Linked DNA regions of Homo sapiens. The protein of the gene in region 1 purifies or fractionates together with the protein of each later gene. This does not show direct contact. Each region holds a gene or a part of one and is shown in the gene's direction. Other genes may lie near its edges. The genes, in order: COX4I2, DCUN1D5, ATP1A3, KDM8, TRPC4AP, LRRC41 and MTHFR.

The links.
Region 2: the proteins of COX4I2 (region 1) and DCUN1D5 purify together in Homo sapiens (affinity purification with mass spectrometry; one large-scale study listed by BioGRID and IntAct). This does not show direct contact.
Region 3: the proteins of COX4I2 (region 1) and ATP1A3 purify together in Homo sapiens (affinity purification with mass spectrometry; one large-scale study listed by BioGRID and IntAct). This does not show direct contact.
Region 4: the proteins of COX4I2 (region 1) and KDM8 purify together in Homo sapiens (affinity purification with mass spectrometry; one large-scale study listed by BioGRID and IntAct). This does not show direct contact.
Region 5: the proteins of COX4I2 (region 1) and TRPC4AP purify together in Homo sapiens (affinity purification with mass spectrometry; one large-scale study listed by BioGRID and IntAct). This does not show direct contact.
Region 6: the proteins of COX4I2 (region 1) and LRRC41 purify together in Homo sapiens (affinity purification with mass spectrometry; one large-scale study listed by BioGRID and IntAct). This does not show direct contact.
Region 7: the proteins of COX4I2 (region 1) and MTHFR purify together in Homo sapiens (affinity purification with mass spectrometry; one large-scale study listed by BioGRID and IntAct). This does not show direct contact.

The regions. Positions count from the first base shown.
Region 1 is NC_000020.11:31,636,685-31,640,711, forward strand, and holds the start of COX4I2 (cytochrome c oxidase subunit 4 isoform 2, mitochondrial), read left to right. Parts: upstream 1-1,227; 5' UTR 1,228-1,278; intron 1,279-2,333; coding exon 2,334-2,415; intron 2,416-2,424; exon of another isoform or gene 2,425-2,499; coding exon of another isoform or gene 2,500-2,596; intron 2,597-3,248; coding exon 3,249-3,413; intron 3,414-4,027. UniProt on the Homo sapiens protein: Component of the cytochrome c oxidase, the last enzyme in the mitochondrial electron transport chain which drives oxidative phosphorylation.
Region 2 is NC_000011.10:103,089,361-103,093,358, reverse strand, and holds the start of DCUN1D5 (DCN1-like protein 5), read left to right. Parts: upstream 1-1,198; 5' UTR 1,199-1,486; coding exon 1,487-1,572; exon of another isoform or gene 1,573-1,675; intron 1,676-3,998. UniProt on the Homo sapiens protein: Contributes to the neddylation of all cullins by transferring NEDD8 from N-terminally acetylated NEDD8-conjugating E2s enzyme to different cullin C-terminal domain-RBX complexes which is necessary for the activation of cullin-RING E3 ubiquitin ligases (CRLs).
Region 3 is NC_000019.10:41,984,231-41,987,730, reverse strand, and holds part of ATP1A3 (sodium/potassium-transporting ATPase subunit alpha-3), read left to right. Parts: intron 1-1,501; coding exon 1,502-1,615; intron 1,616-1,732; coding exon 1,733-1,867; intron 1,868-2,307; coding exon 2,308-2,425; intron 2,426-2,544; coding exon 2,545-2,813; intron 2,814-3,500. UniProt on the Homo sapiens protein: This is the catalytic component of the active enzyme, which catalyzes the hydrolysis of ATP coupled with the exchange of sodium and potassium ions across the plasma membrane.
Region 4 is NC_000016.10:27,217,026-27,220,525, forward strand, and holds part of KDM8 (bifunctional peptidase and arginyl-hydroxylase JMJD5), read left to right. Parts: intron 1-1,935; coding exon 1,936-2,085; intron 2,086-3,367; coding exon 3,368-3,460; intron 3,461-3,500. UniProt on the Homo sapiens protein: Bifunctional enzyme that acts both as an endopeptidase and 2-oxoglutarate-dependent monooxygenase.
Region 5 is NC_000020.11:35,090,008-35,094,069, reverse strand, and holds the start of TRPC4AP (short transient receptor potential channel 4-associated protein), read left to right. Parts: upstream 1-1,262; 5' UTR 1,263-1,288; coding exon 1,289-1,456; intron 1,457-4,062. UniProt on the Homo sapiens protein: Substrate-recognition component of a DCX (DDB1-CUL4-X-box) E3 ubiquitin-protein ligase complex required for cell cycle control.
Region 6 is NC_000001.11:46,297,117-46,300,616, reverse strand, and holds part of LRRC41 (leucine-rich repeat-containing protein 41), read left to right. Parts: intron 1-2,246; coding exon 2,247-2,333; intron 2,334-2,983; coding exon 2,984-3,054; intron 3,055-3,500. UniProt on the Homo sapiens protein: Probable substrate recognition component of an ECS (Elongin BC-CUL2/5-SOCS-box protein) E3 ubiquitin ligase complex which mediates the ubiquitination and subsequent proteasomal degradation of target proteins.
Region 7 is NC_000001.11:11,799,465-11,802,964, reverse strand, and holds part of MTHFR (methylenetetrahydrofolate reductase (NADPH)), read left to right. Parts: coding exon 1-84; intron 85-1,548; exon of another isoform or gene 1,549-1,565; coding exon 1,566-1,804; intron 1,805-2,642; coding exon 2,643-2,753; intron 2,754-3,500. UniProt on the Homo sapiens protein: Catalyzes the conversion of 5,10-methylenetetrahydrofolate to 5-methyltetrahydrofolate, a cosubstrate for homocysteine remethylation to methionine. Represents a key regulatory connection between the folate and methionine cycles.

The DNA.
Region 1 (4,027 bases):
GTCACTAGGCTCGAGTGCAGTGGCATGATCTTGGCTCACCGCAACCTCTGCCTTGCGGGTTCAAGCCATTCTCCTGCCTCAGCCTCCTGAGTAGCTGGGACCACAGGCGCCTGCCACCATGCCTGGCTAATTTTGTTTGCATTTTTAGTAGAGACGGGGTTTCGCTGTGTTAGCCAGGATGGTCTCCATCTCCTGACCTCATGATCTGCCCCCCTTGGCCTCCCAAAGTGCTGGGAATTTTTTTTTTCTTTTTCTTTTTCTTTTTTTCTGAGACAGAGTCTTGTTCTGTTGCCCAGGCTGGAGTGCAGTGGCCCGATCTCGGCTCACTGCAACAGCCGCTTCCCAGGTTCAAGTGATTCTCCTGCCTCAGCCCTCTGTGAAGCTGGGACTATAGGTGCGCGCCACCACGCCCTGCTAACTTTTTTTTTTTTTTTTTTTTTTTTTGAGATGGAGTCTAGCTCTGCTGCCCAGGCTAGAGTGCAGTAGCCGGATCTCGACTCACCGCAACCTCCGCCTCCCGGGTTCAAGCGATTCTCCTGCCTCAGCCTCCTGAGTAGCTGGGATTACAGGTGCGTGCCACCACGCCCAGCTAATTTTTGTATTCTTAGTAAAGATGGGGTTTCACCATGTTGGCTAAGCTGTCTCAAACTCCTGACCTCGTGATTTGCCTGCCTTGGCCTCCCAAAGCGCTGAGATTACAGGCATGAGCCACCGCGCCCGCCCAATTTTTCTATTTTTAATAGAGAAGGTGTTTCGCCATGCTGGGCAGGCTGGTCTCAAACTCCTGACCTCAGGTGATCCTCCCGCCTCGGCCTCCCAAAGTGCTAGGATTACAGGCGTGAGCCACTGCTGGCCTAAAAGATGCTTCTGGAGTAGGAGGCATTGGGCCTGGCTGGAAGGTTTGCGTCTGCAAAGGCCTGAAGAGAACATCCCAGGTGGGAGAAACAGCAAGGAGGGGAGGTGTGGAGGAGGCAGGGAGACCCTGTTCTTGGGACTACTGTCTGCAGAGGGTCTCCAGAGGCAGGACCCCGGTAGGGACACTGATGCAGGAGGCGCTCTGCAGTGCCTCCCCCCAATCTGTGGGCCGGGGTGCCCCCAGGGACGCAGGCTGTGCGCTCCCACGCCCTGCCGAAGCAGGACGTTCCCACGCTGGGGCGGCCCCGAGAAAGGCTGTGGGGCGGGCCGGGGGCGGGCGCCCGCACTCAGGTCCCTCCGCAGCGGGTTCTCAGTTGCTCGCTGGGCAGACCCAGGTCGCGCTCCCACTGCCGAGCCCGCGAGGTGAGTGAGTTGGGGGAGGACCCCGCCACCCAAGCCCGCGCGGGTCAGGGGCGCGGCTCGGTCTCCTGCCTTCGCCGCTGGGTCACGCCCCAGTGGTCCCTGTCTTAGAGGGTTGGGGGGCTTCTTGTAGGTTAGAGTTGAAGACTCCTGGGGAGTCTGCATATGTGTGCCATCTCTTTCCCCAAATATAGATTACATCCTCCCTCTCTTGATATGTGGAGCTCTCCCACCCACTAATCATAATCACTGGCCGGAGCCCCTCTTTTCCAGAAGTGTGGGCCGCCCCCTCCCACTTATCACCTGTAGTGTGCCCCCTCCCTCACTCTATTTGTTGGGTGCCCCTCTCTCTCCCTAGATGTGGGACTCCCCTTCTTTTCCCCAGATGTGTGTCTCCCTCCCTCTGACCCAGTTAAGTCCCCATCCTCTAAAGCCCCTCCCCACCACCATGGATGCCAAACCCTGAGTCTTCCCTGGGGGTGGGAGACTGGGCTCAGCCAGACTGGCTAAGCCCAGTCCCCACCCCAACCAGATCCAGCAGAGCAGGCCTGTGTGCACGTAGGCAGCCAATTAGGGGGGAAGGGGTGGGGGCCAGACCGTCTGTCTGTTCTGCCGGTGCAGGGGCCTCTGGCCCCTGCAGGGAAGAGAGACTCAAGAACTGCTCCCTCTCCACCTGGACCCCACCCAGCTTCCTCTGGGGAGCAAACAAGTGAGCGGGGTTCTCCAATCTGGCCAGACTGAGCTGGGGCTGGCACCAGAACCCAAGCCCTCAGCCTCAAACTCTTCAGACCCTGGCCCAAGACTTAGGCCTCCTCCCACTTCTCAGATGGTGAATTGAGGTCCCAAAAAGGGGCTTCAAAGGTCTAGGACCCCCATTGGCCCCCCGCTGGGGATATCAGACAAAATTAGAAGGGTCAAGGGCATGAGGGTGACCTTGAAACACTGGGACACCCCTACCACTACCATACCAGTGGAAAAGGATTTTTCCATCTGGCCCTGCGGTTTGGGGGCAGAGGGTGATGTGGGGGCAGAACTCATCTATACCTTCACGCCCCCAGATGCTCCCCAGAGCTGCCTGGAGCTTGGTGCTGAGGAAAGGTGGAGGTGGAAGACGAGGGATGCACAGCTCAGAAGGCACCAGTGAGACCTGGACTCCTTCCTCCCTGCCTAACTCCAGAGATAGGGGCAGGGGTCCCCTCTGCAGGCTGCCCCCTTTGCCCTTCCATGCCACCCTGGGCCTGTTCCTACCACACTTCCCATGTTCCCATGATCCCACTCCTTGGTCCAAGGTCAAGTTTCTCCAGGAAATGGAGTGCGCGGGGTGAGCAGACAGTGGTCATCTCCATTCCAAGCTTCCTTAGGAGCCAGCCCCCAAGCCTCAGGCCCCTAGACCTTTTGTTCTGAGGTGGAGGATGCTGACAGAACCTTGGACCCTGATTCCTCCTTTCCAGACCCTAGTTTCAATGCTAGTAAGAAGAAAGAGACCTAAAGTAGGAGAGACTTCAGCCAGATAGCAGAAGGGCCTTGCTGACCCATGGAGAATAACAAAGATAACATTTATTGAGCCCTTACTAGTACCCCAAGCTATTATAAACCTCCTTTTTTTTTTTTTTTGAGATAGAGTCTTGCTCTGTCGCTCAGGCTAGAGTGTTCAGTGGCGCAATGTCGGCTCACTGCAACCTCCGCCTCCTGGGTTCAAACAATTCTCCTGACTCAGCCTCCCGAGTAGCTGGGATTATAGGTGCCCACCACTGCGCCCGGCTAATTTTTGTATTTTTAGTAGAGGAGAGGTTTTACTGTCTTGGCCAGGCTGGTCTCGAACTCCTGACCTCGTGATCCACCCGCCTCAGCCTCCCAAAATGCTAGGATTACAGGCATGAGCCACCAAGCCCGGCCACCTTCTTTATTAATATAGTTAGAGATAGGGTGTCCCAAGGGCAGCCTGGACTCAGCTCCCTCCATTGTGTCTGCAGCCCGTGGTGGGGGGAAGATGTCCCCCTACACCAACTGCTATGCCCAGCGCTACTACCCCATGCCAGAAGAGCCCTTCTGCACAGAACTCAACGCTGAGGAGCAGGCCCTGAAGGAGAAGGAGAAGGGAAGCTGGACCCAGCTGACCCACGCCGAAAAGGTGGCCTGTAAGTGTCAGGGTGGGGCTGGCTGGAGAGAGTGGGTTGGGGGCTGACTTTGGAAAGAATGGCCTGTCAGGGATCAGAGGGCAGAGAGAGGCCCCCAAGACAGCCAGAAACCTCCAAACACCTGAGGGGTGAAGTTCATGCCTTTGTTCGTTTCTTTATTCACTCACCTGTTTGTGCATAGCCTGATGCTAGGCAATGCTGGGGACATGAGGTGAATCACCTGGATAGTTCCTGCCCCCATGGTGCCCCCGGTCCCGTGGGGAAAACCAATACAGACTCCAATAATTGTAATACAGAACATGTGGCTAGGGTGAGGTGTGTTCAAGGACTGTGAGATGAAATCTTGGTGGACCTCCCAGAGGAGGGCACATTCCAGCTGGCCTTTAAGGGTGAAGAGGAGGGCACTGCCAGGGAGTGGGAACTGCATGGGGAAGGGTGTCAGAGCAGGAGACTGTGGAGGGCCCTGGAATTGAGTGATGTGGGGGAGATGGGACAGAGAGAGGCAGGTGAGGCGGTTGGGGAGGAGCCCTCTGACCCTGGGAGGCTGGAGGGATGTGTGGTCCCTTGTCATGTCCACCAGAGCATCCCTGAGCTGACCCTTTGAAATTTGGAGC
Region 2 (3,998 bases), on another chromosome or scaffold:
TTAGAGACTTTATCTGATTCTGTTTTGATTTTGGCCTCAGGCATTTTTAAATGGGTTGAAGGATCATATACTTTGACATTCTTTTGGTTTTAAGTAACAGAGAATTGAACTAAATATGCAAAATAGTGAAATTTGTTGCTTCACATAAGTGAAAATTCCAGGGCATATCATGGATTTTGGGCTCATATCATATAATCACATCCTGGTTTTTCTATTTTTCTGCTTGATACTAGTCTCTTCTGAGTTTTGGCTTCATTCTCCATACCTTCTCTGGTTCAAATCCATAGGAAATAAAATTGCTTTCTGGTGGTTCAATTTTGTGTCATTGGCACTCATTGGCCTGGCCTGAGTATGTGTCCATCCTGAACCAATTAATAACACTAAGGAAATATGATATTCGGATTGACCAGATTAGGGTGCCATTGTGAGGGTAGTTTCACAGGAACCACTTCAACTATTACTCAAAGACTTTTAGTCTTCTCCCATCACAGTTGGTTTGCAGAGATTATTTTACCAACAGAATTACTAACGACTTTCTACTATGTCTTTACATACAATAACCATTATTTAAAAACAGTATTTCCACCTAAGTGGAGATGAATAGATTACAGTGTGTTTTGGGTCTAGGGGGAGGTTCCTTAGAACTGTCCCCCAAATTTCTCTCTACTGAGTCGCAGTCACCTACTGTCTCTTATCGGAGAGGTGAGCTCTGTGGAAATAATGGCAGAGCTAAGTTTCAATACAGGACAAAGTGATATGCAAAGGTAGGGAGAAGGGGGAGTGGGTGGCTGATCACAGGCCCATAAAAAAAACACGCAAGACACAGGGTGACAATGCATTTACGGGGTGGGAACACTTCAGGTGAGGTTATCGTGTGGAAGAGCTCAGAAGTGGAACTTGGTCTACTTTACCAGGTTGTTTTTAACGTCAACTGCAAAGTATTAGTAGTTTCACTTTTTGGCGGTGACTGCCAGCATCAGAGCGCGGTAGAAGCTTCATGAGAAAGGTCAGGATACCCTGGACAGGATACAAGAATTCCGCGGACTGCCGCAGTCGACGGGTCAGACAGCTTCGCTCTGCCTGGCCTACCTACGAGTGGCAGAGGCTAACCGGAACCACGCCCCTTCCCGGGACCGGCTCCGCGATTGCGTCACTTCCGGGCCTCAGCGATTCGCCTCCGGGTTAGGCTGAGCCTCTTGCTTGCTGTGACTGGTGGAGCTGCCGCGCTGTCCGCGTTATCTCCTCCCGGTGAGAACGAACCGCAGTGTCCACCGGCGAGGAGCCAGCCCTGTCCCGGTCAGAGAAAGACGACGAGGATACCTGGGAGCGGGCGGCGGCCGGGCTGGGCCGCGCCGGTGCGGGCTGGCGACTCTGCTCCTCCGCTTGCTGCTGTCTCTGGGAACTGGGTGCCAGCGCTGAGGGGCTTCCAGCGGACAGGGACCCCCTTCCCCGGCTCCCCTGCCCACCCTGCCGGGGAGGGCGGAAGATGCCGGTGAAGAAGAAGAGAAAATCCCCTGGGGTGGCAGCAGCAGTAGCGGAAGACGGAGGCCTCAAAAAGTGTAAAATCTCCAGGTACCATCTCCCCCCACCCTTCAAGCTTCCCTCCTCCCTCCTTTGCTGGACAACTGGAGGAAAAGGAGTCGGGCCCGGCCTGCCGGGCTGGGGCTGGAGACAGGTGAGGCCCCTTTGATCGAGCTAGGCTGTAGGTGCCGAACACCGCGAGTCTCCGCGCCCGACCCGACCTCGTGTTCGAGTGTGTGCACGCTGGCGTTTATGGAGAGACTAGAAGAGCCGCCCACGTTAAGAGTCTACGTGCCCTGCAGGGTGGGGAACAGATGCATATGTAAATTGCGCTTCCCCCCACCCCCACCCCCACCCCACAACCGACCCTCGATCCCCTACTCCCGTATCGCTCCTCTGCCTTTTTCTAGACTTAGAAGTGAGTACATATCCGCAGAAGGGTCACTTCTAGAATTTCTTTGTAGAGTGTGAAGAAAGCAGAACATAAGGAATCTTGACAACTGTCTTGGGAATGGTAGAAAGGAAAACTTGTATGCTATAATTGGCCTCCATATTTAGTATTTGGAGTGGCCTAACCCGGAAGGTCCCAGCAGGAGGCCTTTTAAATTGCAGGAGCCCCATTTTCTGGAAGTATAGTGCCTCACCTATGCCAAGTCCCTGTGTGCAGAGTTGGAAAGGCCCTGCATGCTTTTTGTCTTCTAGCATTCAGGACGCTGTTAGCTCTCAGCATAAATTAAATAATTTGTGAGCTCTTGTACTCTGTCCTACTGGTAAGAAAGAAGACAAGGCAGAACTATATAGTAGTAGCTCTTTGATCCCCTTGTAGCATATCATGGAGGCATCACAGCAAAATTTATGCTACAAAAAAACTGCAATTTTGGTTTGAGAAATGGTTTTTTTGTTTTTTTGTTTTGTTTTGTTTTTCTGAGACGGAGTCTTCCACTGTTGTCCAGGCTGGAGTGCAGTGGCGCGATCTCCGCTTACTGCAACCTCCGCCTCCCGGGTTCAAGCGATTCTCCTGCCTCAGCCTCCTGAGTAGCTGGGATTATAGGCGCCCGCCACCACGCCCTGCTAATTTTTTGTATTTTTAGTAGAGACGGGGTTTCACTATGTTGACTAGGCTGGTCTTGAACTCCTGACCTCGCGATCCGCCCGCCTCGGCCTCCCAAAGTGCTGGGATTACAGGAGTGAGCCACCTCGCCCGACTGAGAAATGCTTTTTTAAAAAATAACCATATTAGCTGCCTTTTCATCAATGGTTGGCACTTGATATGACAACTTCAGATGCTACTATTGAAAGGAGACTGTAGCCAGGATTATAAGAAGGAAATAATGATAGAGCTCTCCTTAAAGAGAGATCTGCTTAAACTGTGAGGTAGATGACTTACATAGTCTGCATCTTCTTTTTTGTAATTGGTCGACTTTTTTCCCTCATTACTGTGTTTTGGTAAAGGAGTCTATGGAGTATTAGGCTATTAATGTGAACGATGATACATACACCTCTTGTTTGTCAACATTAGAATTTGACATGGTTACTTTAGTAGCTCACATTTTTATAAGATACAGGCAAATTATTATTCATTTTTGTACTATATCATGGCCATCTTAAGTATATAATGTATTAAAATTATTTAAGTTAAGTACATTAAGATAGCTGAGCAGGCAGTATTATTAGAACTCAGGTGATACTTTGCTCTATCAATTTAAATTTTTAAATATGATACTCTTACTTTACTCAGTTACAGAAGTTCTATCATTTCTATATCATTGTGGTAGGGTAATTATTTGAGTTCCTTGAAAAAAGTTTCTCTGAAGGCCATTAAATTCTAGAGGCCATTTTGAACTTACCAAATTTTAGTTATTTTATGAAAAACAATGAAAATGATTTTATGAAAAAAATGAAATAGAATGAACAGAACCTAGGATTAAATAGCCTTGTCCCAATTATTTGGACTATTATTAACTTTTAGTGTTTTTTTGTTGTTTTTTTTAAATCTGTGTAATTTAATATACCCTTAGGTCCTAAGTCATCATTTATCTTTAAAAATCTATTTAAGCTTAGGTGATAAAACAACTCTTAATATAACATTTTATTTTGAAATATTGATTCATTAAGTATCAAAATATACTTTGTAAGAGTTTGTTTTCAAATATTTATCTATTACACACAAATAGAATTTCTATGCAAATCAATAGAATCATAATAAATATTTATACTTTCCCACCTACTAGGTTGAACTTCTTTGTAGTCTTTTAAAATGTGCGGAAATAACTTACTGATATTTTTGGATTTTGATACTGAGTGAAAAGGTATTTGGGTTTTGTTAGCCGATAATTCTTATGTATAGACTACTGTTTCAAGTTGCAATTACTTAACAACTTCAGTTTTTTTCCAACAATGCCAACCGAAGAAAAAAAAAACCTTTGTTTAATGTGAATGGAAGTTGTTAATTTTGAACTTAGTTTTTCTCTAAGAGT
Region 3 (3,500 bases), on another chromosome or scaffold:
CAGCAGGATGTGTGAGCCGGGGCTCTGTCCCAAGGCTGTGTGACCTCAGCGGCCTTGAGAACAGACACCAGCAGGTGGTCATGGCTTGACAGATACCCAGAGTGAGTGTCACATAGAGACCCAGGCACACCCCGCTGCTGATACATCAGGGCCCATCCCCATAACACAGGGACACATTCGAGATGCAGCCTCAGATCCCATGCGCATAACACAGACCACACACCAGCCACACAGAGCTGCTCACCTGGGTAGGCGTGTGTGCACACACACGCATGTGCACGGAGGGTCAACGCAGATGCCACACCAGGATGTGGTTTCAAACATGGCCACCTAATTCAGAAACACAGACACAGACTCAGATATACACTGACAGAGAAACTCACACACACACTGACACGCACACACACACACAGCAATGCAGGCATAACCTGGTGACAGAGAGACATGAGAGTCAGGCACAGAGAGTGTCCTCAGATGTTCAAATCTAAACAGTCTTAGACATAAGCTCTCACAGAGAGGCAGAGCTGGAGACACAGAGACAGAGATCCACACACAGAGAACCAAAGAAGCTGCCTTGTAGAATGTAAAGTCAGGCATGCAGCCAGTCAGACAGACACATGGACAGACAGCCGCATCCCAGACTCAACATGTGCAGGAGGACAGACACACACACAAAACAGATGGACAAGTCGGGCATGGTGGCTCACGCCTGTCATCCCAGCACCTTGGGAGGCCAAGGCAGGAGGGTAACTTGAGACCAGGAGTTCCAGTAGCCTGAGTAACATACCCAGACAGACCCAGCCTCTAAAAAAACACAAAACATAGCCGGGCCTGGTGGCGCACACCTGTAGTCCTAGCTACTCCGGAGGCTGAGGAGGGAGGATTGCTTGAATCTGGGAGGTTGAGGCTACAGTGAACTGAGATTGTGCCACTGTACTCCATCCTAGGCAGCAGAGCGAGACCCTGTCTCAAAAAAAAAAAAAAAAAAAAATGCCAGGAAAGATGGCTCACACCTGTAATCCCAGCACTTTGGGAGGCCAAGGTGATAGATCACAAGGTCAGGAGATCAAGACCATCCTAGCCAACATGGTGAAGCCCCATCTCTACTAAAAATACACAAAATTAGCCAGGTGTGGTGGCATGCACCTGTAGTCCCAGCTACTCAGGAGGCTGAGGCAGGAGGATCGCTTGAACCAGGAGGCGGAGATTGCAGTGAGCCAAGATCATGCCATTGCACTCCAGCCTGGGCGACAGAGTGAGACTCTGTCTCAAAAAAAAAATCGACAGACCCTTAGATTCAAACACAACCATTACAGAAAGAGGGACTCAAGCACAAACAGGGGAGACTCAGACACACCAACCCTCATAACCAACCTAGGGTCAGACACACAAATACAGACCCCCACTGACACAAAGCTCCCTTCCCAGACTCCAGGCGAGCAGGGACTGGTGGAGAGTGGCTTGGGCGGCCCCTGATCAACATCCCCACATCTCCCCACAGCTGTACCTGGGCATCGTGCTGGCGGCCGTGGTGATCATCACTGGCTGCTTCTCCTACTACCAGGAGGCCAAGAGCTCCAAGATCATGGAGTCCTTCAAGAACATGGTGCCCCAGGTGAAGGGTGCCCAGCAAGGGGCCAGACGGGGGTGTTAGTGTATGGGCTGGGGGCCGGGCCCAGTGACCCCCAGGCAGAGGGAGTCTGGGAGGTGACATTACTCCATCCCACCTCAGCAAGCCCTGGTGATCCGGGAAGGTGAGAAGATGCAGGTGAACGCTGAGGAGGTGGTGGTCGGGGACCTGGTGGAGATCAAGGGTGGAGACCGAGTGCCAGCTGACCTGCGGATCATCTCAGCCCACGGCTGCAAGGTGGGCCTGGGCCTAGGGCCCGGCTTTACCCTCCCTCGGGCTGCCCAGGAGCTCAGGCCCAGCCCCTCCTCCCTCACACTCAGGAGTCCAGGTCCCAACCCCTCCTCCCTCAGACCCAGGAGTCCAGGCCCCCAGGCCCTCCTCCCTCAGACCCAGGAGTTTAGGCCCTGGGCCACCTCCTCACCCAACAGTCAGGAGTCCAGGCCCAGCCCTCACCTTTCGGAGATCCTTAGGGACCCTAGACCTTGGCCAGCAGCACTGTGCCTTCCCCACCTTCAAGATCCCAGCCTCTGGCCTCCCACACACCACTCACCCACTGGGCACCCAGGCTTCTAGCTGTGATCTCCAGGCACACAGGCTTCAGCCCCAAGCCCTGTACACAAATACCCTCCTGTCCCAGGCCCTGGACTGAACCCTCTCTCTGCTGCACCTACCCCCAGGTGGACAACTCCTCCCTGACTGGCGAATCCGAGCCCCAGACTCGCTCTCCCGACTGCACTCACGACAACCCCTTGGAGACTCGGAACATCACCTTCTTTTCCACCAACTGTGTGGAAGGTGAGGCGGGTGCAGAGAAGACACACAGCTGGGGCAGACACAGGGATGTGTCCCAGGGGGTCAGGCCTCCAGAACCTCCCTGAGCCACCCCACCTCAGCCTAACCCCTCTGGCCTGCAGGCACGGCTCGGGGCGTGGTGGTGGCCACGGGCGACCGCACTGTCATGGGCCGTATCGCCACCCTGGCATCAGGGCTGGAGGTGGGCAAGACGCCCATCGCCATCGAGATTGAGCACTTCATCCAGCTCATCACCGGCGTGGCTGTCTTCCTGGGTGTCTCCTTCTTCATCCTCTCCCTCATTCTCGGATACACCTGGCTTGAGGCTGTCATCTTCCTCATCGGCATCATCGTGGCCAATGTCCCAGAGGGTCTGCTGGCCACTGTCACTGTAAGGCCAGGCTCCTGGGTCTGGGTGGGGAGGGCCTGGGGGTCTGGGCTCCTGGGTCTGAGGGAGGAGGGGCTGGGATCCTGGACCCCTGAGTCTGAGGGAGGAGGGGCTAGAGGCCTGGACCCGTGTGTCTGGGGGAGGAGGGGCTGGGATCTGGACCCCTGGGTCCGGAGAAGGGGCTGGGGGCCTGGATCACAGTATTCTTGTGAAAGACAACTTGGGCCTGACTCAGAGGGCCTCATTAACAAAGCAAACAATCAAAGAAAGAAACAAACAAAAATCTTGAGAAACACTGGCAAGCCGTAAAGAGCCAACAATCCTATTGCAAAATTAAGAAGTGCACGCTCATGATGAAAAGTTGAAGAGTACATCAAGTTAAAAAATAAAATAATGAGGCTGGGTGCACTGGCTCACGCTGTAATCCCAGCACTTTGGGGGGCCAAGGCGGGCAGATCAGCTGAGGTCAGGAGTTCAAGACTAGCCTGGCCAACATGGTGAAACCCTGTCTCTACTGAAAATACAAAATTAGTGGGGCGTGGTGGCACATGCCTGTAATCCCAGCTACTCAGGAGGCTGAGGCAGGAGAATCGCTTGAACCTGGGAGGCGGAGGTTGCAGTGAGCCAAGATCACGCCATTGCACTCCAGCCTGGGTGACAAGAGTGAAACTCCATCTCAAAAATAAATAA
Region 4 (3,500 bases), on another chromosome or scaffold:
GACTTGAAAGATGTTTCGGGTAATGGAGGGCCGCCTGGGTGTTTACCTTGGGTCCCAGAGCTGAGTGTCTACCATGCTGTGGAGAGGACCCTGGAGAAGTCCCAGCAGCCCATGCCCAGGTGTTATCATGCCGTGTGGCAAGGACAGTGTTCTAGAACCTTCTCTACCTACAGGACGCTCAGGGACTCCTACCAAATTCTTGTCCCAGAACCTCTTATTGACTTTTCTCCCAGGGACCCCGTGTTCTAGAAGATTTTGGCCATCAGTTTAAGCCTGCCTCAGTTATTAGTCACATCTCGGGAGCACTGATTCCCTTCGGGTCTCTGCATCCTCGGCCAGTGATTCTGATGACATGATCTGGTCAGCCAATCACCTTTCAGAAATCCTGATGATGTCATCAGGGACCAATCATAGTTTCTGCTCAGATTCCACAGGGCCAGTTCTGGTCAAAAGCAGCAGCGTCGGGTTACCTTTGGGAGGAACCCCTCACAGCCCTGGGAGGGACCTCAGCTTGCGAACTTGTACTTCAGTCCTAAGCAGCAGGCGCGGCTGCGTTTCTGCACAGCTGATTTGAGACAGGTTCTTAAAGGTCTGAATAGCAGTGTCTGGGACCAAGCTCCCTGCAGGGAGAACATTCCAGCTTTTCCTGGTACACACTGGTTTCTGAGCCAGCAGCCTGAAGTTACCGTCACTGCTCCCGAAGGAATGGTAGTGTCCACCTGCAGGTGCCTTCAGGCTGCGGAGCAGTGACTCTTAAAAAGCCCTGTGTCCCTCTGGCAACCCTGTTTTCATGCCTCTCAAGCTTGAAAAATGCCGCCAGGTCCATCCAGGGTCCCGTGAAGAACCCTGGGGTTCTCGGTGGCCTGGGGGGTGTGGGCTGGTGGCCTGCTCTGGTGGGTTCAACCCCGGAGGTAACTGAGGTGCCTGCTAAGGGTCTGGACAGGAAGTGGACTTAGAGTGAGTGTGTTTTCACTCTGAGACCCTGGCTTTGTGTAAAGGAGGCCAGGGCCATGTGCAGTGGCTCATACCTGTAGTCCCAGCACTTTGGGAGACCAAGCAGGACCAGCCTGGACAACATAGCAAGACCCCATCTCTACAAAAATAAAATTAGCCAGGCACGGTGGCATGCTCCTGTGGTCCCAGCAATTTGGGAGGCTGAGGCAGGAGGATCGCTTAAGCTCTGCAGGTTGAGGCTACAGTGAGCCATGATGGTACCACTGCACTCCGGACTGGGTGACAGAACAAGACTGTCTTTGAAAAAAAAAATTACAATAAATAAATAAAGGAGGCCAGGCCACTGCGGCCCTGCCCCACCGTGAACATCCAAGATCGCTTGATGTGTGGCATATAACTCTGTCAGAGGCCATGGGGAGCCGCGCCACCCTTACTGCATCATATAAAGCTCAGAGCACAGACCCAGGCCCACACCTGCCTTTCTCGTCAGGCAGTTTCTCTTCTCTGCCCAGCCTGTTTCTGCCAGGTATGGCAACAAATCCTCTGTGCCTACCCTGGCTTTTAAAACTAGGACGGCAAGGGCCGGGTGCGGTGGCTCACGCCTGTAATCCCAGTACTTTGGGAGGCCGAGGCGGGTGGATCAATTAAGTCTAGGATTTTGAGAGCAGCCTATGCAACATGGCGAAACCCTGTCTCTACAAAAACAAAAATTAAAAAAAAATTAGCCGGGTGTGGTGCATGCTTGTAGTCCCAGCTAGTAAGGAGGCTGAGGTGGGGGGATCACTTGAGCCCAGGAGGCAGAGGCTGCAGTGAGCTGAGATCACGCCACTGCACTCCAGCCTGAGAAACAGAGCCAGACCCTGTCTCAAACACACACACACATAATGGATATAGGTATGTGTTTCTGACTCTTCGTTGGCCTCCGGGCTGCGGTGTCCCCAGCCGGATCCCCACATCTCATGTCTGCTCTGCCGCCCACAGATCCCGGAGTTGAAGCAGGACATCAGCATCCCCGACTACTGCAGCCTGGGCGATGGGGAGGAGGAGGAAATCACCATCAATGCCTGGTTTGGTCCCCAGGGAACCATCTCCCCACTACATCAGGATCCCCAGCAAAACTTCCTAGTGCAGGTTGGAGCTGCAGCTGGAATAGTGGCCTTCTAACTCCTCCTGGCCCAGACACCTGGCCGGCCACATTCTCTGCCTTTAAACACCGGGCTCTTAAAAAGAAACAAGAAGCACTGAAGGGGATGAGGACAAAAATATAAAGCAAACCCACAAACGGCCCCAGGCCCAGGAAGGCCTCTGCAGTCGGTGCTTCCAGAAGCGGCTCCTCCTGCATGTGCTCCTCCCAAGATCCCTCACAGGGGAGCCCTCGGGAGAGGGAGCGAGTGCTGGTGTGGGTGCCCGGTGCCTCTGCCCCTCCCCGCCTGCTACCCATGCGATCCAGACCAGCTTCCAAATAGGAGGTGGCAGGTTGGGGGAGGAGTTTTCTCAGTCACTGGGAGGTTTTTTTCCTGAGGCCCAGTCAGAGGAGCAGATGGATTTGCTGCAAGGGGAGGCACCTCTGTCTACTGCTGTAAGACCACCCTGGTTTTCGCAGGCAAAGAGAGGTTTAGTAAAGGAGAACGTTCTCCTACCCCAGCAGACCAGTCCAGAGAGGCAGCCCAGGAGTGGGCTAAGAGCTGGGCTTCGGGAGCCAGCGTGCCTGGCGCAGACAGCAGCCCTGCCACACCTCAGCTGTGTGAGCTTGGGCAGCTCATTTAATCTCTCTGTGCTTCAGTTTCCTCACCTGCAAAATGAGAGTGAAGATAAACCACCTCAGAGAGGATTAAACCAGTTAACACACATAAAGCACTTAAGCAGTGCCTGGCACAGACAAGCGCCTAATAATTGTGGGCTCCAAAAATGAAGTTATTTTTCAAAATGTATTTGGAAGAAAAACATACCTTAGGCCAAGTTTGGTAGTTCACACCTATAATCCCAGCACTTTGGGAGACCGAGTCAGGAGGATCACTTGAGGCCAGGAGTTCAAGACCAGCCTGGGCAACATATTAAAACCTAATCTCTACCAAAAATAAAAATACAAAAATCAGCTGGGTGTGGTGGGGCATACCTGTAGTCCCAACTACTGGGGAGGCTGGGGCAGGAGGATCTCTGGAGGCCAGGAGGTCGAGACTGCAGTGAGCCATGATCGTACCACTGCACTCCAGCCTGGATGACCGAGTGAGACCCTGTCTCTAAAAAATAAAAAAGAAAGAAAAACATACACGTGGAACCATAAGCATGTGTGTGGTGGGGAAGGGCAGGCTGGGCCCAGGGAGCAGCATGTGGAAGGGCACAGAGGCCAGAGTGGGCTTGGGGCAGCAGTGGAGTGAGGCCACCAGCTGACTGTCAGGGTCTCTCTCCCCAGGTGATGGGGAGGAAGTACATCCGGCTGTATTCCCCGCAGGAGTCAGGGGCTCTGTACCCTCATGACACGCACCTTCTCCATAACACGAGCCAGGTGGGCACTGGGGGTCTGGGGTGACGTTGCAGGTTCTCCC
Region 5 (4,062 bases), 3.5 Mb from region 1:
TTTTATACCAGTACCATGCTGTTTGGGTGACTATGGCCTTATTGTATAGATTGAAGTCAGGTAATGTGATGCCTCCAGATTTATTCTTTTTGCTTAGTCTTGCTTTGGACATGCAGGCTCTTTTTTGGTTCCATATGATTTTTAGGATTCTTTTTTCTAGTTCTATGAAGATGGATGGTGAGTCTACTCCTTTTAGATGGGGTGTGAGGATGGTAACCATAGTGCCAGTTCACCTGGGAGAGTCACTTTTATGCCTACCGTCCCGGTGTAATTATTTATTGTGTCTTTTCATTCTTTAAAGTGTTCTGGTTTGAGCAGTAAGTTACAGTCATCTTAGTTATGAGTCACAATCTTCACCATTCCCTGTTACATCACACTTAGCTCTCCTCTTTCATTTTTATTACAGGCCCCCTGCTAGGAAGGGAAAAAGTGTGTGTGTGTTGGGTGGGGGGAGTCAGTGCCATCCTGCCACAGAAGTTAGCTGAAAAAATGAGTATTAGAGACAACATGCTATCTGGTGGATAGAAATTAGGACAGGGTTTTCATCTGACAGAGAATATGATGTCACAATTTACTAATCCCTTTCCCTTCCATTATTTAATTTCACAACAACCTACCCAGTTACACAACTTATCCAGTTTGAGACTGCGTTTCTTTGTGTATGGATCTGCTGTCTTCCCCTGTAACCTGCATTTCGTGATAAAGGATCCCAGGCCGTTCTGCTCACCACTGTATCCCAGACACCCTCCCTTTCCCCTAGACATGGTTTGGTGTCGGGCGCAGAGAAAGCCCCAGGAACTACGATTGATCAGGCTCCCAGAATCTATAGATGGAGTGACCTGACGAGGACACAGGCGCAGTGGCAGAGCGCGATGACTTGGTCGATGTCCGCGGTGAGTCACGTGTAGAGAGAAGCAGGCAGGAAGCGGACTCGAGGGCCTGACTCCTGACCTGAAGCCCAGGATCATTTCTTGGCCAGCTGCCTGCATCCTGCCCAAATCGGCGAGAGAAATGGGAGAATGTGGACCTTGGGAGATTTCGCCGAAATGCTGGGCCCGGGGGCCAGAGAAACCGGCAGTGCAGGAAAGGCCACATCTCTTTTCCCACCTACCCCGCTGCCGCGCAGGACTACAATTCCCAGTAGCCTCCACGCCGCACACGGTCCCTGCCACGCGGCTTGCGCCTCCGCCGACGGCCCACTGGGGGCGCTGCGGCGACCCCTCCGCCGCCCCGTAGAAATCTCCGCGGCCCCGAGGCCGCTTGCTTCCTGTTTGTCCGACGAGGAGACATGGCGGCGGCGCCGGTAGCGGCTGGGTCTGGAGCCGGCCGAGGGAGACGGTCGGCAGCCACAGTGGCGGCTTGGGGCGGATGGGGCGGCCGGCCGCGGCCTGGTAACATTCTGCTGCAGCTGCGGCAGGGCCAGCTGACCGGCCGGGGCCTGGTCCGGGCGGTGCAGGTACGAGGCTGGACCAGGAGGGGCGGGGCGGGGCGGACCAGGCGGGAGCTGGCGGGGGGCCGGGGAAGAGGCCTTTCCAGGCCGCCGCTGGACGGGCCAAAGCCCTTTTGGCTGGCCGGAAGGCCTCCCTGTGAGCTGCCCGGACGCTCTCAGCTGCAGCGGGGCCGTGGGAAGCAGCTGGCTTGATGTCCCTTGTCAGGGGCCGAGCGGGGCTGGGCTGCTGTGGACACTGATGGCGTGTACGAACCCTGGGCCCAGTTTCTGGATCCTCCCTTCTTTGCGCCACGTCTACACGTCTGGGGGACCCTGTCGTGTTTGTTTTAGCCTCTGTGGGCCTCGAGTTTATCCCGTGTATTGGGCGTGGGGGAGGGGGTCATCATTGCAGCCCCCAAATGGTTCCCGAGCATTTCATAAATGTCATTTTCTCAGGCCTTTCCTTGACACTCTTTCCTTCCCCTTTCTAAAGTAGGTCCCCATTGTTATTCTGTCACAGCCGCGAATTCGTTTCGTTTACATTACTTTCTTAGTCTATAATTTCGTATTTCTTTGTTGTCTGCCTTTTTCTCGCCCGTCTCCCACATTAGGCTGAGTTCCAGCGGGTGCAGAGACTATATCTGGTTTGCTAGTGTAGAGCGTCACGGTTAAGAGGGACTCTGGAGTCAGGCCTGGGTTCAAAGCCCTGCTCCTCTCTCTTGCTTGGGCAGGTGACCTTTCTGTGCCTCAGTTTCCTCACTTGTAAGATGAAGATGAGAATTAGTAACCTACCTTTTAAGATTGTTGTGGAGATCAAAGGGGGCAATTGTGTAAAGCATTAGTGCATTTCTGGTGCATACTAAGGGCTGAAGGTAGTTAATATTAAGCATCTGACTTATAACAGGTGCCCAACATATGATTATTGTTATTTTTGAGTGAGCGAAGGACACTGCTTTAGGGTAAACCAGGTTGAATAGGACCTAGTCCACTACTTCTTCCACCCTCCCCCACCCCGAACCTTGCTAACACCTGTAAAACATTAGCTTTATTTAAAGACAGCTTTTTCATAAAAAGTTTGAAGGATACTCAAGAAACTGATAAAGTGGTTGGTGGGAGTGAGGTGGGAATTGGGCTAAAGGGGGAGAAAATGGGAGTGAGACTTTTCACAGTGTAACTTTATTTAAATTTAATTTGAATATCACTTCCTCAAATGACGAAAAGGATAGAATAAAATAAAGGCTAGGGGGTCTGTGTGTATGGAGGACTGTGGACGAAAGGAGCAGTTGTGAGTGAGAAATGTTTTCCTGGCCATCACACAACCATAGATGAGCAGCCTTTTTCCCCCTTGTGTTCTTAAGACCTGACTTAAGACCCTGTAATCCCAGCACTTTGGGAGGCCGAGGCAGGCAGATCGCTTGAATCCAGGAATTCGAGACCAGCCCAGGCAACACGGCAAAATCCTGTGTCTCCAAAAATTTAGCCGGGCATGGTGGTGGTGTGTGCCTGTGGGGAGGCTGAGGTGGGAGGATTACCTGAGCCTGGGAGGCGGAGATTGACAGAGTGAGACCCTGTCTCAAAAAAAAAAAAAAATCCTAGAAATACTTGCTCTTTCCTTCTTAAGCTAAGATACCTTACCGAGCTGGGTGTGTAGAGACAGGCAGAAAGAGGACTAACTTTTAGTGAGCACATAACCTTTAGAAAAAGTACGGTACAAGGCATATGTTATCTTTAATCCTCAAGCTTTTGAGTTATGCTTCAAGACTCATTTCTTAATATGGATGAGGAAACTGAGGCTCAGAGAGGTTAGATGATATGTTCCTAAACACCCATCCTGATAATCAGTGTTCTGAGAATAATAGGGAGCCACAGAAGTTCTTTAGCATGATAAATGAGGCAATTTAGGCAACTTAATTTGTTTCCAGTGCTGAATGACTTAGAATGGGAGGAGCCTAGAAAAGCCCACCAGAGGCTGGGCACAGTGGCTCATTCCTGTAATCCCAGTGCTTTGGGAGGTCGAGGCGGGTGGATCATCTGAGGTCAGGAGTTTGAGACCAGCCTGGCCAACATGGCGAAGCCCCGTCTCTACTAAAAATACAAAAATTAGCCGGGCGTGGTGGTAAGCACCTGTAATCCCAGCTACTCTGGAGGCTGAGGCAGGAGAATTGCTTGAACCTGGGAGGTGGAGGTTGTGAGCTGAGATCACGCCACTGCACTCCAGCCTGGGTGACATAGTGAGACTTCATCTCAAAAAAAAAAAAAAAAAGCTCACCAGATACAAGGCTGCTGGAATATTCTGGAGCCACAAAAGCAAGGCAGGTTATTGTGGTAACTGATGGTTGTATATAGGTGTGGGAGCTATTTCAGAAGTTGAAGTAGAGACCCCCTGCCTGGAGCTATAGTGAGGATAAAATGGGGACCTTCATCTTTCAAATATTTCTTTTCTTAGTTTTTTTTTTTTTTAATTTATTCCATGCTGTGCCCTTCCGCTCCTCTCTCCCATCCTGCAGAATAAGTTATTTGCTTACCCTTTTTTTTTTTTGAGACAGAATCTTGCTCTGTCACCCAGGCTGGAGTGCAGTGGCAAGCTCAACTTCCTGGGCTCAAGTGATCCTCCCACCTTAGCCTCCCTAGTA
Region 6 (3,500 bases), on another chromosome or scaffold:
ATCACCAAGAGCAGGATGAAGAGGGACTGGATGGAGACTGAAGTGAAGGAGAGCAGTTAGGCTGTTGTAATAGACCAGATGAAAGGTGATGTGGACTACATTCGTGTAAAAGCATAGGGAATTAACACTTTCATTCAGCCCGTACATCGAGGACCTACTATGTACAAATAATTATACTAGATTCTTGGATGTCAAGATTCAGTTATTCTGTAAGTAAAGATAAAAAGAGACCCTGGAGCGGAAGTTTTGGTATACTCCAAGATCTTAGACTTGTTCTTTTTCTTTGAGATGGGGTCTCACTCTGTCACCCAGGCTGCAGTGCAGTGGCATGATATCAGCTCACTGCCACCTCTGTCTTCTGGGCTCAAGCAATTCTCCCATCTCAGCCTCTCGAGTAGCTGGGACCACAGGCGTGCCCCACAACACCCAGCTAATTTTTTTTTGTATTTTTGGTAGAGATGGGGTTTTGCCATGTTGCCCAGGCTAGTCTCAAACTCCTGGACTTAAGCAATGCCCCCTACCTCTGACCTCCAAAGATTACAGGAATTACAGGTGTGAGTTTGACTTGTTCTTGATTGGACAGAGATGCCATTGACAGGATAAAAATAACCACCAACATTTAGCGAGCTTATTATGGCTGGGCATTGTTTTAAACAGATTATAAGCATGATCTTCACAACAATGTCATGAGTTAATTACTGTTATCTCCATTTTATTTTATTTTATTTTATTTTATTTGTGAGACAGAGTCTTGCTCTGTCGCCCAGGCTGAAGTGCAGTGGCGCCATCTCGGCTCACTGCAGTCTCTACCTCCTGAGTTCAAGTGATTCTTGTGCCTCAGCCTCCCAAGTAGCTGGGATTACAGGCGTGCATCATTACACCTGGCTAATTTTTGTATTTTTAGTAGAGATGGGGTTTCACCATGTTGGTCAGGCTGGTCTCAAACTCCTGACCTCAAGTGATCTGCCCGCCTTGGCCTCCCAAAGTGCTGGTATTACAGGTGTGAACCATTGCATCCCACCTATTTTTTATTTTTTGAGGCAGGGTCTTGCTCTGTCATCCAGGCTGGAGTGCAGTGGTCTAAGCACAGCTCACTTCAGCCTCAACCTCCTGGGCTCCAGCCATCCTCCCACCTTAGCCTCCCAAGTAGCTGTGACCACAGGTGCACACCATCACACTCTGCTAATTTTTGTTTTGTTTTGAGATAGGGTTCTCACTGTGTCACCTGGGCTCAAGTACAGTGGTGTGATCATAGCTCACTGTAGCCTCGAACTCCTGGGCTTAAGCGATCCTCTTAGCCTCCCAAAGTGCTGGGATTACAGGTGTGAACCACTGTGCCCAGCCTCCATTTTTTTCCAGTTGAAGAAACTAAGGCTTAAAGAGGCTTAAATAATTTGTCCAAGGATTCACATTTAACTAAGTAGTTAGGATTGCACTCAGATTTGTCCTACTCTAGAGGCCAAACCCTTTAGACACTATACTATAACAGCTCTTAGAACTAGAGAAGTTGGCAAGAGCAGGTTTTGTTTTTAAGATATATTGACTTTAGAGACACGAATTGTTTCTATTCTTCATAGGAAAGTACTAGTTCAGAATATAGCAGTAGCCCAAAGGATGGTAGTGGTTAATCTGGAAAAATGGAAAAGGAATTCAGGAAAGACTTAATAAAGGGCATGTGATACTTGAAAGATGAGTAGTTGATATACTGAAAGTGGCAACGACATTCCTATTAGAACAGCATGACAAAGGACATTCCTATTGGAAAGAACAGCATGACAAAGGTACAGGGGCAGAAAGCGGCATAATATGTTAGGTAAATGAAAAAGTAGTTAAGTGTGGCTGAAATGTAGGAGGCAAAGCAGGGAGCTGATACTAGCAGGGCAGATTATGAAAGACCTTTTATCACACATATTCAGTAGGTCCTTTTCAATGCCAAATGGTTCATTTTGCTTGGGCAGAAGTGAACTGACCAGCTCCTAAATAAGCATGTCAAGCTCATTTAGCATGTCAGCTTGTTTTGTGGGATGATCTCACCCTTGCCCCTGAAATTCCAGCTTCCAACTGAGTGGCTGAAGATAAGTGGACTAGAGTTTGGAACAGATCTAGATTAGCTTCTAGAGGTTCCATTTGTCAAATGAGAAGTCTACCCTTCCATTTTCCTTTCCAGTAGAATAAATAATGCTTGGAAACCTCTTGGGTGGGAGGGGGAGGGGAGGAAAAGTAAACTTTTGTTTTGATTTTTGTAGCCCTCCCAGGCCCAATACTTCAAAGCATCCTACCTCTGCTCAATATATATTACTTGGAGAGGATTGAGGAAACTGCCCTCAAGAAAGGTGAGTATCTTTCTGTCTCTTTCTCAGTCAATGATTATGAGCAAGGCACCATAATGTTCTTCCGGTAAATATTACCCCTGATACCTGCTAGAACTTCGTGCTTTTCAAAAAGTACCTTCACACCTATTTTTCTTCCTCATTCCTCAGTGTCCTATGAAACACAAAGCCAAGTATATGATCTTTATTATACTGATAAAAGTGAGACACAGGCACACCACAATTAATAGCAAAGCCAGAACAACAACCCATATCTTGTGAATCTTAGTTTCTCTATTTTACCAAGCTTCCTCCCCTCATTAGACACATCTGTTAACAGGTAACATTTAACCCTAATGTGTCAAGCATTGTCCTAGGCACTTTACCCACAGAAACTCATTTACCCTAATCCTTTCAACAACCCTATGAAATAGCTGTTATTAACATTTTACAGATGAGGAGACTGAACCACAGAGAAATTAAGTAACTTGCGCAAAGTCACATAGCTGGAGTGTAGTTTGCTGATATTCACACCCAGGCAATCTGTCTTTAGAGCCAGTGCCCTTAATCACTCTGCCATATTGCTCCTGTGAACCCAGAAGACAACATGAAAGGTTGATGTACTTTACTCATGGTGGCCAGTAAGCAGCCAAGTGTGATATTTCTCCTTACAGGCCTCTCAACTCAGGCCATCTGGCGCCGACTCTGGGATGAACTGATGAAGACAAGGCCTTCCAGTTTGGAAGTAAGTTAAGGTATCAGGTAGAATGCTAGCCTGATTTTGCATGGTAAAAGCAGGAATAGCACACAAACACAAGCTGGGTACTGATAAAGTGCAGAGGCAATGATGGAATGGATTTGGGAGGAGGGCTCTGATGGCTTGTCACAAGGTTTTGGTCCATTTGGCATTTGTCACTGAATTGCTTGCTCACTGTATTTGCAGGGGACACAAAACAGGGAAAGTTAGTGATCACAATGGATGGCAGAGCCAGGATTCCTAGAGTTCTTGATGGTGTTGGTGCAGTGGTCAAATCTAACAAAATGAAATTTAATAGAATACACCAATACTTCAATGAGTTTTAAAAGTTCCAATTGCATGGTATCGGGATGAGGGATAAAGGAGTATGATTAGTAACAGCTTGTATAAAAAAGATTAAGGGAGTTTAGTCAACAATGTGTTGAAGCCACTTA
Region 7 (3,500 bases), on another chromosome or scaffold:
GCGATTGGAATCTGGTGACAAGTGGTTCTCCCTGGAATTCTTCCCTCCTCGAACTGCTGAGGGAGCTGTCAATCTCATCTCAAGGTAAACTCATGCAAGGTTAAGGTGGGAGGCGGGAGTGGTGGTGCCTGGGGAGCAAACTGTCAGCCCTGAGGCTGGGCTGCCCTTTAACCCGGCAGAAAAAAGCAGCCGGAGGGGGCAGGAAGGAGAAGGCAGAGTGGGTCATCTGATCTGCAACTTCTCTGTTGCCTGTAAAAGTCCCTCCACAGTGTCAAGGTATTTTAGACACACTCTTCAATGGGTTAAAAATGTTGATTCTCACACTGTATTCTTTGAGGGAACTTGGGGGCTGGATCACGAGTGCAGTTTAGGAAGTCACAAAGCAGTGAGATTGTTTTCAGCAAGTTAGAAATTTGGATTATGCTTCTTGAACTCTAGAAATGCCAACTGAATTACATTAGCACTTCATGAATTGCAGTTTTTTTTTTAAGTTTATGCCTTTTACTGTATGCACGTCTCACGTGTCACTCCCAAGTTTTTGAAGTTTAAATGCACAAGGATGTTTAAATACACCGTTGATAGCTTGTAACACAAGTACTCGTGCACATCCAGGCTTTTTTTTGAGTCTCGTTTCGGAACTTGGCCTTGGTCTGCATAACTGTAAGCTGCTGCACAGGGCTTGGGGGGTGGCATGAAAGAAAGTGAGTCTGCTGACCCTCTTTCTAACTGTTCCTACAGCGAGGCTGTGCTTGCCACAGTTAGGATTCCCCTAACTCTCAATCATGATGTCTTAACTCACCTGAGATAATAAACAGGCAAGCGCTGTGAAAAGTCTGAAGTGCTGCTCTCACACAAAATGATAGCGCTGTTGTTGTGTCTTACCTCTGTAATAGTGATTATAACGGCACCTCACATATACTGAGTATTCGGTTTGTACACCAGGCACTGTTCTAAGTTCTGTGGAACCAGCTGCCGTCATATTCTCCTAGTGTTATGGTTTTTTGTTGTTGTTGTTGCTTTTTTTTTTTTTTTTTTTTTTTTGAGACAGAGTCTCATTCTGTGGCCCAGGCTGGAGTGCAGTGGTGTGATCTTGGCTCATTGCAACCTCTGCCTCCTGGCTCAAGCAATTCTCCTGCCTCAGCCTCTCAAGTAGCTGGGATTACAGGTGCCCACCACCACACCCAGCTAATTTTTGTATTTTTAGTAGAGATGAGGTTTCACTATGTTGGCCAGGCGGTCTGGAACTCCTGACCTCAAGTGATCCACTCACTTCAGCCTCCTGAAGTGCTGGGATTACAGGCGTGAGCCACCACGCCCAGCATCCTAGTGTTATTATGAAGTGGGTACTACTATCTGCCGTGTCTTATAAATAAGGAAACAGAACTCACAGAGATTAAGTAATGTACCCAAGATCACACAGCTATAAGTAGCAAAGCCAGGATATGAACGCTGATTGGTCTGTCTCCAACCTTCATTGATGCTTCTCTAACTCCCGGGCCCCATGGGAAGGCAGTGACGGATGGTATTTCTCCTGGAACCTCTCTTCAGAAACAAACCCCCTACAGGTTTGACCGGATGGCAGCAGGTGGCCCCCTCTACATAGACGTGACCTGGCACCCAGCAGGTGACCCTGGCTCAGACAAGGAGACCTCCTCCATGATGATCGCCAGCACCGCCGTGAACTACTGTGGCCTGGAGACCATCCTGCACATGACCTGCTGCCGTCAGCGCCTGGAGGAGATCACGGGCCATCTGCACAAAGCTAAGCAGCTGGGCCTGAAGAACATCATGGCGCTGCGGGGAGGTGTGGAGCCAGCACTCCCCTACACTCTGGGTTCTGGCTTTCCCGGAGGCCACTTGGTAGCCTGAACTTGGTTCCTGAAATGGTCCTTTACTTCTTCCTGGGCCCCACGCTGAGGATCCGCAGGATCCCATCCCCGCCAGTAGTGTCAGTAGGCATTGTGGGTAGTGAGTCATCCTGGGCACCACACACAGGCAGCCACCTCTTCCACCTCTTGACCTCGACATAGGAGTTCCGTCAGGAATGCAGTCGCGGCCTGATAACCCTCTGCCTTGCCTACACCACTGCATCGATTGCTGGCTGCACCCAGCACTTGGCCCAATCACAGAGTAACAGAGTATCCAGGAGTGAGAATAGCCGGTCAGGCCTCTGGTGCCCGCTGTTGTCAGGCCACCTAAGAGTGGGAAGAGGGAGCCTGATGGGTGGGATCCTATGGCCTCGTGCTCCCTACCACAAGACCCCTTCACTTGAGATGAGTAGAAAATTCTCCCAGGAGGCAGGAGCCCCAAGGCCGTGGGATGGGAGAGGGTGGCAGGCATGCCCAGGTAGAAGTAGGGAAGGGCTCTCCAATCCTCCAGGCACGGTGAGAAGCAGCGGTGGTCTCCTATTCTCCACCGCCAGCACAGGGTCAGCATGCAGTGAATATTGAACTGGTGGGCTGCTTTTTTCCCTCCTGCTGTCTTACCAAGTGCTAGAAAGAGACGAACCAAACCTAAATAATATGAAGTTTCTGCCTTCCAGGGACTCGCAGTCCTGGGTGTCGGGGCTAGGTAGAGGGAACAGAAAGGGTCTCTGGAGGTTGGGTGAGACCCAGTGACTATGACCTCCACCAACCCTGCAGACCCAATAGGTGACCAGTGGGAAGAGGAGGAGGGAGGCTTCAACTACGCAGTGGACCTGGTGAAGCACATCCGAAGTGAGTTTGGTGACTACTTTGACATCTGTGTGGCAGGTGAGTGGCTGGATCATCCTGGTGGCGGGGATGGAGCTAGGGAGGCTGAGATGCCCAGAGAGCCTGTCGGTGTTCGGTTCAGGACACAGTGATCAGGGGCACTCATGGGTCCATGCTGGATGAAGGACATGCAGAGGTGAACTGCACCATGTCCTTGCTCCTTTTGTATCACCCACTCCCCTCCTGGGCCTGCCACCATCGACCCCTAGCTTTTTGTTCCTCTGCCTGGCTGTGCCCTTAGCCTGCTTGGCCTTATTCTTTTCTTTAAAACGAAAGAGGGGTCTGGGCGCGGTGGCTCACACCTGTAACCCCAACACTTTGGGAGGCCGAGGCAGGCAGATCACCTGAGGTCAGGAGTTTGAGACCTGCCTGGCCAACATAGCGAAACCCCGTCTCTACTAAAAATACAAAAATTAGCCAGGTGTGGTGGTGCACGGCTGTAGTCCCAGCTACTCAGGAGGCTGAGCCAGGAGAATCTCTTGGACCCAAGAGGCGGAGGTTGCAGTGAGCCGAGATGGTGCCGCTGCAGTCCAGCCTCAGTGGCAGAGCAAGACTCCATCTCAAAAAAAAAAAAAAAACAACACCCCACAAAAGAGGGATATTTACTAACAGGATTCCAGAGGGCAGGGAACCCAAGATCAGGAGATGGCCTCAGACCTCACAAGGCACTGGAAGAGGTCAAAAAGCAAGGCCCTCCCTCATTCCCTCTGGGGCCACAGGGTCCCCCATCTCCGCTTCCCACTGCAC